2 separate regions of the Homo sapiens genome follow, and region 2 is linked to region 1. Evidence: fine-mapped expression QTL. Tissue or cell type: prefrontal cortex. Region 1 holds a variant in brackets; the other region holds the start of a gene. All regions are shown on one strand. Distances are between the middles of the regions.

Region 1 (5,151 bases):
CAGGGTCCTAGCCTAGGTTCTCCTCCCTTCTGGATCTGCACTAGCTCCTTGGGACAGATATGTCATGTATCCCATGTCTTCAGCCACCAAATCTCTCCTCCAGCCCAGACCTCTCCCTGGGTTCTCCTCCTGGGTGTGCGCTAGGTCTCACAAACAGCATGGCCATAGTGAGCTCCTTCCCTTCTCCAGTGTTTCCCCTTGGTGCTTGTCACCTTCATCCATTCAGTCACCCAGACAGGAACCCAGTATCACTCGAATCCAGTCCTTATTGCCTGGCCTATTTTAAGAGTCTCCTGATTGGTCCACCCAGCTCTAATGCAGGTTGCAGTGGTTACCAGCATGAATTCTGGCGCCAGACTGCTTGGTTAAAATCCTATTTCTACCACTTAGTAGCTGTGTGATCTTGGGTAAGTTATTTAACCTCCCTGTATTTCAGGGTAACTTATGAAGAAAAGAGGTTTAATTGGCTCACGGTTCTGCAGGCTGTACAGGAAGCACAGTAGCATCTGCTTCTGGGGAGGCCTCAGGGAGCTTCCAGTCATGGTGGAAGGCAAAAGGGGAACAGGCACGTCACATGGCAAAAACAGGAACAAGAGAGGAAGCAGGGGAGGTGCCACACACCTTTAAACCACCAGATCCATGAAAACTCACTATCATGAGAACAGTACCAAGGGGATGGGACTAAACCATTCATGAAAAATCCACCTCCCTCACCTCCCACCAGGCTCCACCACCAACATTGGGGATTACAATTCAACATGAGATTTGGATGGGGACACAGATCCAAACCATATCACCATTCTATTGATATTCCATGCTTGTTCCTACCTCAGGGCTTTCCACTTGCTGTTCCTTCTGCCTGGAATCCTCTTCCCCAGATCTTCTTAGATTCCCTCTCTCCATTCGGGTCTCTGCATAAGTGATTCATCCTCAGAGACGATCTCCTGACCCCTAAGTAAAATAGCCACCAATCCCCCAGTCACCCTATGTCTCCACCTCACTTTATCTTATTTCACAGCATCTATTAATATCACTGACATTACATTATATGTGTTGCTATATGTTTGTCATCCTAAGCTCTGGCCCCTGCAATGTGAGAATGGCCCAATACAAATGGCAAGAAGGCTGTCGTGGGTGAGTGGACAAGGCAGAAAGTGGTTGGGGATGAAGCTGGAGAGATGGGCAGGGGCCTGAGCTTAGGAGATGGTACCTCCAGTGTGCCCTGAACTGCCCTGGCATGATTATTAGTATTGCCTCCTTTCACTCTCAAAGGTGCCCAGGTTATTACAGTTGTTCTGTGTATAGGGCATGGTAAGCAGTTGGCATTTTATTTCAAATGGGATGTGAAGCGTGTGGATGGTTTTGAGCAGGAAGTGACATGATCTGACTGGCATTTTAAAAGGATCATGACCAAGTCCTTGAAACACTCTTTTGGCTCCTGCCCACACCCCCCCACACACACCCCACTCTCCTCCACTGCCCTTTCAGTCTTCTCTGGCAGCTCTTTCTCTTCTACAACCTTTAAATCTTGGAGTTTCTCCAGACTAGCGGTTCCCAACTGGGGGCGATTTCTCCCCCAAGGGACATTTGGTATTTTATCTGGAGATATTTCTGATGGTCACAACTGGAGCGGGTATAACTGGCATCCAGTGGATAGAGGCCAGGGAGGCTGCTTACCATTCTACAATCCACAGAACAGCCCTACACAATAAAGAATGACCTGACCCAAAATGCCAGTAGTCCTGAGGTTAAGAAACCCTGCACCAGATTAGCACCATCCAATAGGAATATCATGGGAGCCAAATATGCAGTTTAACATTTTCTAGTAGTCACATTTTTAAAAACCTAAAAATAAAACAAGGGAAGTTAACTTTACTAATGTATTTTATTTCATCCAATATTTATACAATATTATCATTGCAACATGTAATCATAACAAAAAATATCAATGAGATAGTTCACACTTAAAAAAATTCTGGTGTGTATTTCATACTCACTGCACATACAGCAATTCAGACCAGCCACATTTCAAGTACTTAATAGCCATAG[G/A]GGGTTCGTGGCTATTATATTGATGGCATAGCTCTAGGCTCAGTACTGGATAATATATCACAATGTTTAAGAGCTGTATAATTGACGGGGTGTAGTGGCTTACTCCTGTAATCTTAACACTTTGGGAGGCCAAGGTGGGAAGATTGCTTGGCCCCAGGAGTTGAAGACCAGCCCGGGCAACATAGTGAGATCTCATCTCTACCAAAAAAAATTTTTTTTTTTTTTTTTTTTTTTTTGAGACGGAGTCTTACTCTGTCGCCCAGGCTGGAGTGCAGTGGCGCCATCTTGGCTCACTGCAAGCTCCGCCTCCCGGGTTCACGCCATTCTCCTGACTCAGCCTCCCGAGTAGGTGGGACTACAGGTGCCTGCCACCACGCCTGGCTAATTTTTTGTATTTTTTAGTAGAGATGGGGTTTCACCGTGTTAGGCAGGATGGTCTCGATCTCCTGACCTTGTGATCCGCCTGCCTCAGCCTCCCAAAGTGCTGAGATTACAGGCGTGAGCCACCACACCTGGCAAAATGTTGTTTTTTTAATTAGCTGAGCATGGTGGTATGCCCCTGTAGTCTGAGCTATTCAGGAGGCTGAGGTGGGAGGATCACTTGAGCCAAGGAGTTCAAGGTTTCAGTGAGCTACGATGGCACCACTACACTCTAGCCTGGTGACAGAGTGAATCCTTGTCTTTATTTTTAAAAGAAGGGGGAGTACTGTATAAAGTAATAAAGCCTAATGTTTTGGCTCTGGAACTGAACTGCCTTGTTGAATTCCAGCCCTTCCATTTATTGCCTGTTGGCCTTAGGTGGAGTTAGTCTACCTCTCAGCCTTTGTTTCTCACTTGTAAAGTGGGGATTATAATATTACTACTTTATAGGGTTGTCAAGGATTAAATGAGTTAATATTTACAAAAGACTTAGAATAGTTTCAGGTTTTATAATAAGGGCTCACCAAATGTTAAGTATTTAGCTAGGCCCCTGCTCTGTCTCCATCCACGTTTTCTGAATGATCCCATCTGCTCCCATAGCTTTAAATGCCATCAATTACCTAATGACGTCCAAATTTAATATCCAGCTGAGACCTCTGTTCTGAACTCCATACCCTCTATTTAACTGTGCACTGTATTTTGATGATCCAAGACATCTCACATGAAACGTCCATCACGGGGCCCTTGACCTTCCCCTGCAAATCTGCTCCTCTTCCAATCTTTGCTATCTCAGCCAATTACACAGGGCAGCTATCTGGGAGGCTTCCTTGACTTCCGCCTTTCCAGGGAATGCATAACACATTGTGCAACTTCTCTGTTAGTTGAGGTTTCCACTGACTGGCATGTGCCCACAGAAGTGATGTGAGTGCTGAGGGCATTTGGAATGAGAGTCCATAGTTGTGGCTGGGGCGACCACCAGGGCTTCCTGGTACTGATTGCTCACGACAGTTGCGCCTACCAGTATATATTTGTAAGTCTGTCCGTGTGTATGTGTTTGCATACCTGGCCAAATGGTTGTGTCTGTGGATGTGTGTGGACGGGGGCACAGGAACATTCTTTCCCATCAAGTAATCAAGTGTCCCCCAGCAAGCAGGCCTTGCTGTGGGGATGGAAGCACAGTTATTCTCAGATGACCAACCCGATTCTCCCACTTGAAGGGGTGGCTTCCCTCAGGTCCTGACCTGGTGGCGGGTAAAAAGGAAAAGACCTCTCATATCTAACCCAGCACACCAAGACCTCCTCTATCTCCTCTTCCCTGCCCAAGAAGTCCAGCTCCAGGATGCTCTCATGCAGCTTCCTTTGGAGCCTTAGGAGCTTCTCTGAGGTACTGGGCGCCTGAGGATGACCGGTGAATCTGAGAACTTCCCACAAGTCCCCCTAAGGACAGGGCAGCTAGAGCCCTCCCTGAGTGAACAGTTTGATGGGTTGCCAGAAGCAGAGGCCCCAGGAAGAGAGGCTGGAAGGTATCTTCCCTTTTCCTCTCCTTCTCCCACTTTGAGGCCCTGCCATAGCGTCTAGAAGGAGCCCTTTCCTGGCCTCCTGGCCGCCCAGGACAACTCGACCTCTGGTGAACTGGGAACTGATTCCCAGGGACAACCCACCACTGCCACCACGCCAGGCCTTTAGGGACCTCGGCCAGAGCCCAGCTTTCTCAGATGCGGTGGCCACAACTTCAGCCGTCCCTTTTGGGGGTGACTGCCACCTCTCAGAAGTGTAAGTGTCTTCCCCTTGCCCCCACCACACTATTCCACTTGCTTTGGGCCCCTATGGAGTTGCTGCTGGGGAATTCTTGCTGAGGATCAGGCCACAACCACCACGACTAACTTCGACAAACTTGATGTGTCTGCTGCCTCCAGAACACCAGGAGGCAGGAGCGCGCAGGGTTGACCCTTGCGGAATCCCGGGCATCGAAGCGGCGCCTCTACAGGCCAGCAGCGCCCAGGCGACCCAGGGACAGACGGGGACTCCTGGCTTCCCCGCGGGGCCTCCCAGGGCACCTGCCCAAGGCCACCCAGCGCGCGGCAGCCGAGACAGCGGAGCAGAGCCGGACCTCCCAGCCGTCGATGAAGGCGGCGACCGCCTAGGGCCTTCCCACGGCTCGGCGGCGCGTCACCGCGGGGGCGAGGGGGCGCCTGGGCGCCCGGAGCTGCGGCGCAGGAAAGGGCCCTGGGAAAGGGCGGTGGCGGCGCCCCCGAGGCGGGGCCGGGGCGGGGCCGGGGCGGGGCCTGACTTCCCGACTGGGAGCCTTAGCCGCGGGGCTGAGACCAGGCAGCCTGCGTTCGCCATGAAGCGACCCAAGGAGCCGAGCGGCTCCGACGGGGAGTCCGACGGACCCATCGACGTGGGCCAAGAGGGCCAGCTGAGGTAAGGGCCGGGATGCGGGGACCGAGCAGGCGGAGGGCGAGCGGGGTGGGGGTCGGCCCGACGGGCTCGCCGAGCAGGCGGGCCAGCCCTCCAGCACCGCCTGGGCAGAGGCAGGTGAGCGCGGGGGCCACAGGTGTCGGCGTAGGGGGCGTGTGCGGGCCGTGCCGTTACACGCACGAGTGCCTGGATCCTGCGCGCTCTCGGTCGTGCAGGGCTGGGGATGCTGGCAGGGAGGGAGAGTTCAGCTCGGGGGATCAG
Region 2 (5,151 bases), 730 kb before region 1:
ATGCTCACTCCAGTGGGTTGCTTCACTGTGACTCAAGATCTGTCAAATGAGGACATAAGGGAATTTGAATAAAGCCAAGATACACTCCTAAAATAAACCAAATCTTCCAATAGACCTAACAGAAGATGTAACAAGAATCAAGAAGCTAACCTACTCAACATAAATTGATTCTAAAATACTTTTTAAAATGAATTATTGCTAATGCAAAAATTCAGGAAAGAAGTCTAGGAATTTGTTTTCCTAATGGCACATTCCATTTATCTGTTGGTAGAGGTCACTAAAATACATTACTAGGTGTCTATGTATCCCTCCCCTGTTCTCCTTTTATAACCTTATTCTTCAAAAATAAAAGGTAATTAAGTGAAAGCATCAATTAAATATGTCCTTCCTTTCTCAAAATAGATAAATACGAATATAACTGAATCTTTGTTTTATAGTATATGCCCACTACGCTGTACGGCAAACAACCATGGCAAATCCACTGCATTATGAACAAAAGTAAATTGTCGCCCCCAAAATATAACTATCCATTTCGACCCAACCAAAGGGAAAATAATTTTCCCAATCCTCCAATTATATGCCAAAAGAATTAGAAAATACAGGAAAAAAAGATTCATAGAAGCTTGTATAAATGTCAAGTGCCAACATTTCACTAATAACCAAGATTTCCTATTGTACTGACTTTTAATTGTATCAAATCATGAATCTTCTAGGGCACAGAAAACAAAGACTAAATGGTTCTGCCAATTTACAATGATCATATTTCACCTTTAGAAGTGTAATCGCCATGGAAGCAATGAATTCATCGAATTCATCTTTCTCTCTCCACTGATTAAACGGATCCTGCACTACAGGCATAATCGGCTAGTTTCTGCCACCACTCATACATAGGCCTCCAACGCACTCTACAAGCCAGGGCTACACTGCCTAGAAATCCGCACTGTGTCACTGCATAAGGCAGTTTCCCACTGCACACATCCAGAAGAATAAAGTCACCTAAGCACTCTTGTCAGATCTTAGCAAGGCTGCAAAATGACAGGAGTTGCTAACCAAATAGCAGGAAGCAAAAATCACCACCTTTAAAAATCATTTAAGCAGTTTTCCTTTCCGCCATCTCACTTCCCTCCTCCTCCTCCTCGTCATTCTCTCTCTCTCTCTCTCACACACACACACACACACACACACACACGCACGCACGCACGCACGCAATGCAGTTCATCCCCAGCTTTGCAAGTGACATGCTGGGAGCTCTCTCTGGACAGCCGGCCCAGAACTCATTCAGAGCCCTCAAATACAGACATTCTCACCTGAACACGCCAGGCAACTTCCACCCGCACCATCACCTCCACCCTCCCCGACACACACAGACTCGCCCTCGCAAGCTCTACCCATACCAATCCCCCAGCTGCAGAAAGCCCAGTAGGCTCACTGCAAGCGCAGCACGCGTTACCACTTATAAGCCGAGTTGGGCGGCCTAAGCTTCAGAAACCGCCTCTTCACGCAGCCCACCCCCACCACCCCGGCGCGGCTGGACCCCTGGCCCGCCAGGTGGGATGCGCTACCTTTAGACTGGCAATCTGCACAAAACTTGTTATCCTCCTCCAGCAGCAGGTTGGCCAGGACAGCCTGGTACCGATCCACGTCCTTCACCGACTTGCCTGTCATGGCCAGGGTGCCGGCGGGGGCAGAGGGCGACGCGCCCTCCTCGCCCCCAGAGACCCCTGCCTCAGTCCGGGGTTGAGGACTCCCGGTCCCCCGCCCAGGGGCACCTCCTGAGCGGGGAGAGCCCTCTCCTCCGGCCCCGCCGGACGCCCCTTCCCGGGTCGGGGGCGTCCGTCCCCCACTCCGCAGCCCCTCGGCGCGGCGCCCCTTGGCGGGCTTAGGGACAGGCCCGCCTCCAAGAGAGGCTGCGGGGCCAGAGACCCTCAGCCCAGGCAAAGGCGGACCACGAGCCTCCTGGGTGCCGGACGCAGATGACCCTCTGGCCGGCCTGTCTGCTGGCCTTGCGTCCCGCGCCTCGGTTTCCCTGGCAGCTGCCGTCAGCTCCGCTACCACCTCCACCGCCTACTTCCGGCAGCTCTTCCTCCCCACCTCCACCCTGCCCAGCTCGCGCATGCGCCCCGCCCCCACCGCGCCGCACTGGGCTCTTCCTTCAGCTCCGCCTCTCGGGAACCAATCCGTGGAGAAGCGGGGGGCGGGCCTTGGGTGGGGGCGGAGGGAAGGGGTGGGCACGCCCCCTGCGTGTCCTTGGAAGAGAATGAATGGAGCCTGGTAGAAAGGGAGTGGAGGGAATGGAAGAAAGTGAAGGAAGACAACAACTAACATTTACTGAGCTCTTACTATGCGCTAGGCACTGTGTTAAGCGCTTTGCATGAACTATCCCAACATAATCCTCACAACGACCCTATGATCATCCTTATGTAACCTGAGGGTTGTTGATACCCCAAAGTCCTCCAGCTTGTTTTTTCCAACAGCCAAATATAAGAGTCCAAGCCCCTAACCCAGGATATAGGAACGTCACCCCCTCCCCACATTTTCAGAGGACTCTGGTCACCTCTCACTTGGAATACCTGCTCCCACTAATACTCATTAGCTCTCCTCTGTGACTCCTGCCTTTTTGGATATTGTTTGGCCTGGTGCCCAGACAGTTTGTTTCTTCTTCCATTTCTTAAATTCTCACAAAACAGCGAGTTTTTTGTGGCAGACTTTTACTGAACGTTATTTGGGAAGGGTGGGGGACAGTGATTAAAGCATAGCACACAACAGGCAACTCCTTAAAAATGATTATTAAACATCATCATCCAAAGCCACCGTTGCTACAGATAATTTCTCATTGGCTGTCCTTTTCCTTAGGGATCCACCTGCCATCTGGCTTGTGTTTTCATTCACTCATTCATTCATTCATTCACTGAGCACGATGTTACTGAGAAATTTCTAAGTATCAGGCACTGTACTAGGGGAGAGGGAAACAGCATGATCCGATTTGTGGTTTTAAAAGGTCACTCTGGCTGCCATGGAAATAATTAATCAGGGAAGATAGTAAGCAGATGCTAAGAGTTATCTAAACTCTGGTGAAACCCTCTCCTCCATTTCTTTACTTTCTCCCAAGACCAGGATCCCCTCAAAGCTTTCATCTCATCAGAGGAAAACTAAACATTTCTATTACTTTATTAATCACAACAATTAAATTTTCTGGCTAAGCCTCTTCCCTTCTAGCCATGCCTAGGGGACTTGACTTTTAAAAACACACAAGTTCATTGGGGTGTTTTTCCTCAGAAAACCCATCCAAGTAGGTATTACCATAACCATTTTTCAGTTGAAATAGACAGTCAAGATTAACTAGTTACTGGGTGTGGTGGCACATACCTGTAGTCCTAGCTACTCAGGATGCCAGAGCCAGAGCATCACTTGAGCCCAGGAGTTGGAATCCAGCCTGGGCAACACAGTAAGAACCACCCCTCCAACCCCCAATGTACCCCGTTACCCTGTCTCAAACAACAACAACAACAACAAAACCCAGTTAATTGCGGTGAGTGGTGATTGTACCTTAGTTCAAGCCCTCCCCATCTTCATCTCCTCACTCTGCAAATAGCCTTCCTGCCTTAGTCTAAATCTGGTTAAATTAATCCTTCACCGTGCTCTCTAGAGGGAGCTTTTAAATGCCAATTCTGATGGACTCACACTTCCTGCTTAAAAAATCCTTTAGTGGCTCTCCATTGCCTATGGCAGTGTTTCTCAAATTGTTCCCACCTAGTGAGAGATCTCATGGCTTTGTGGTTAAGCACACAGACTCTGGGGCAAGAATGCTTAAGTTTAAATCTTCAGCTTTTACCACCTATTATCTGTGTGACTTTGAGCAGGTTACTTAGCCTCTTGGTGCCTCAGTTATTTCATCTATAGAATGGGAATGATGATAACATTAATAGTACCTATTTCACAAGATTATTATGAGGCTTAGCTGAGATAATGCCTGTAATATAATTAGAACAGCCCTTGGTAGATAGTGAATGATAGACAATTAGCGCTCTTCACTAAATATTTCTGGCGTTTTGCCTTCTGAGCACATGGTAGGATTTTATTTCCTGGCCTTCAAGTGATTGGGAAAGACCAATGAGTTTGAGCAGAAAGGATGGATTACTTTGTCTCTGAAGCATTTATTTGTTGCTTTGAGCCTCTTGTGCTTCTCTTTCCCTCTGGCATGGCAACTATTGATGCTGAAGATGTTGGTTGCTCTATTAGCCTGGATTTCTGTGTAGCTGATAAACAAGAGCTCTCTGCCAGCCCATAGAGGATAACTTAGCATAAGCAAGAAATAAGCATTGTGTTGCCATTGAGTTTTGTTTGTTTACCACTGTATAAGCTAGCCTATCCTAGCAGATACATCAAGTATTAGCTCTTTTTATTATCATTACTAATAGCAGAGTAAAGTGAGTGCATAGCCCAGGGTCTGAGGATATAAACAAAGCAAACTGCTCCTCCCAAGTACACATTTTTTTTTTTGAAGTCTTGAATTTTGCTTTGACTAGTCTTGCAAAAATGTTCACTCTGTTCCATCATGCACATGTTATCTTATCATAAAACTGTTTCCACATTAGTTATAAAATTTTTTTTTTTGAGACCGAGTCTCGCTCTGTCGCCAGGCTGGAGTGCAGTGGTGCGATCTCGGCTCACTGCAACCTCCGCCTCCCAGGTTCAAGCAATTCTCCTGCCTCAGCCTCCCAAGTAGCTAGGACTACAGGCACGTGCCACCACTCCTGGCTAATTTTTTGTATTTTAATAGAGGCAGGGTTTCACCCTGTTAGCCAGGATGGTCTCAATCTCCTGACCTCGTGACCCGCCCACCTCAGCCTCCCAAAGTACTAGGATTACTGGCATGAGCCACCGCGCCTGGCCAGTTATAGAATTTTCTTTTCTTTTTTTTTTTTTTTTATTATACTTTAAGTTTTAGGGTACATGTGCACATTGTGCAGGTTAGTTACATATGTATACATGTGCCATGCTGGTGCGCTGCACCCACTAACTCGTCATCTAGCATTAGGTATATCTCCCAATGCTATCCCTCCCCCCTCCCCCTACCCCACCACAGTCCCCAGAGTGTGATATTCCCCTTCCTGTGTCCATGTGATCTCATTGTTCAATTCCCACCTATGA

Which allele goes with the higher level. Alleles are on the strand shown, and positions count from the first base shown. SD is a standard deviation of normalised expression in the study named.
In carriers of allele G in region 1, the expression in prefrontal cortex of the gene that starts at base 2,059 in region 2 tends to be lower than with A alone (moderate effect, 0.65 SD a copy in GTEx).

What was found. PIP is the estimated chance that this variant, and not a neighbour inherited with it, causes the effect.
Region 2: it holds the start of SMAP2, and the variant in region 1 is fine-mapped to the expression of SMAP2 in prefrontal cortex (GTEx, PIP above 0.99).

Annotation. Positions count from the first base shown.
Region 1 is chr1:39,639,288-39,644,438 of GRCh38, reverse strand. It overlaps HEYL (hes related family bHLH transcription factor with YRPW motif like), which reads left to right and starts at 4,796. Exons shown (of 5, transcript NM_014571.4): 1 at 4,796-4,893. The coding sequence starts at 4,814. RefSeq lists silencers at 4,440-4,829, 4,950-5,019. The variant G/A (reference allele first, on the strand shown) is at 2,050.
Region 2 is chr1:40,370,635-40,375,785 of GRCh38, reverse strand. SMAP2 (small ArfGAP2) reads right to left here and starts at 2,059. Exons shown (of 10, transcript NM_022733.3): 1 at 1,563-2,059. The coding sequence starts at 1,665. RefSeq lists an enhancer at 1,302-1,801 and silencers at 1,787-1,926, 1,997-2,316.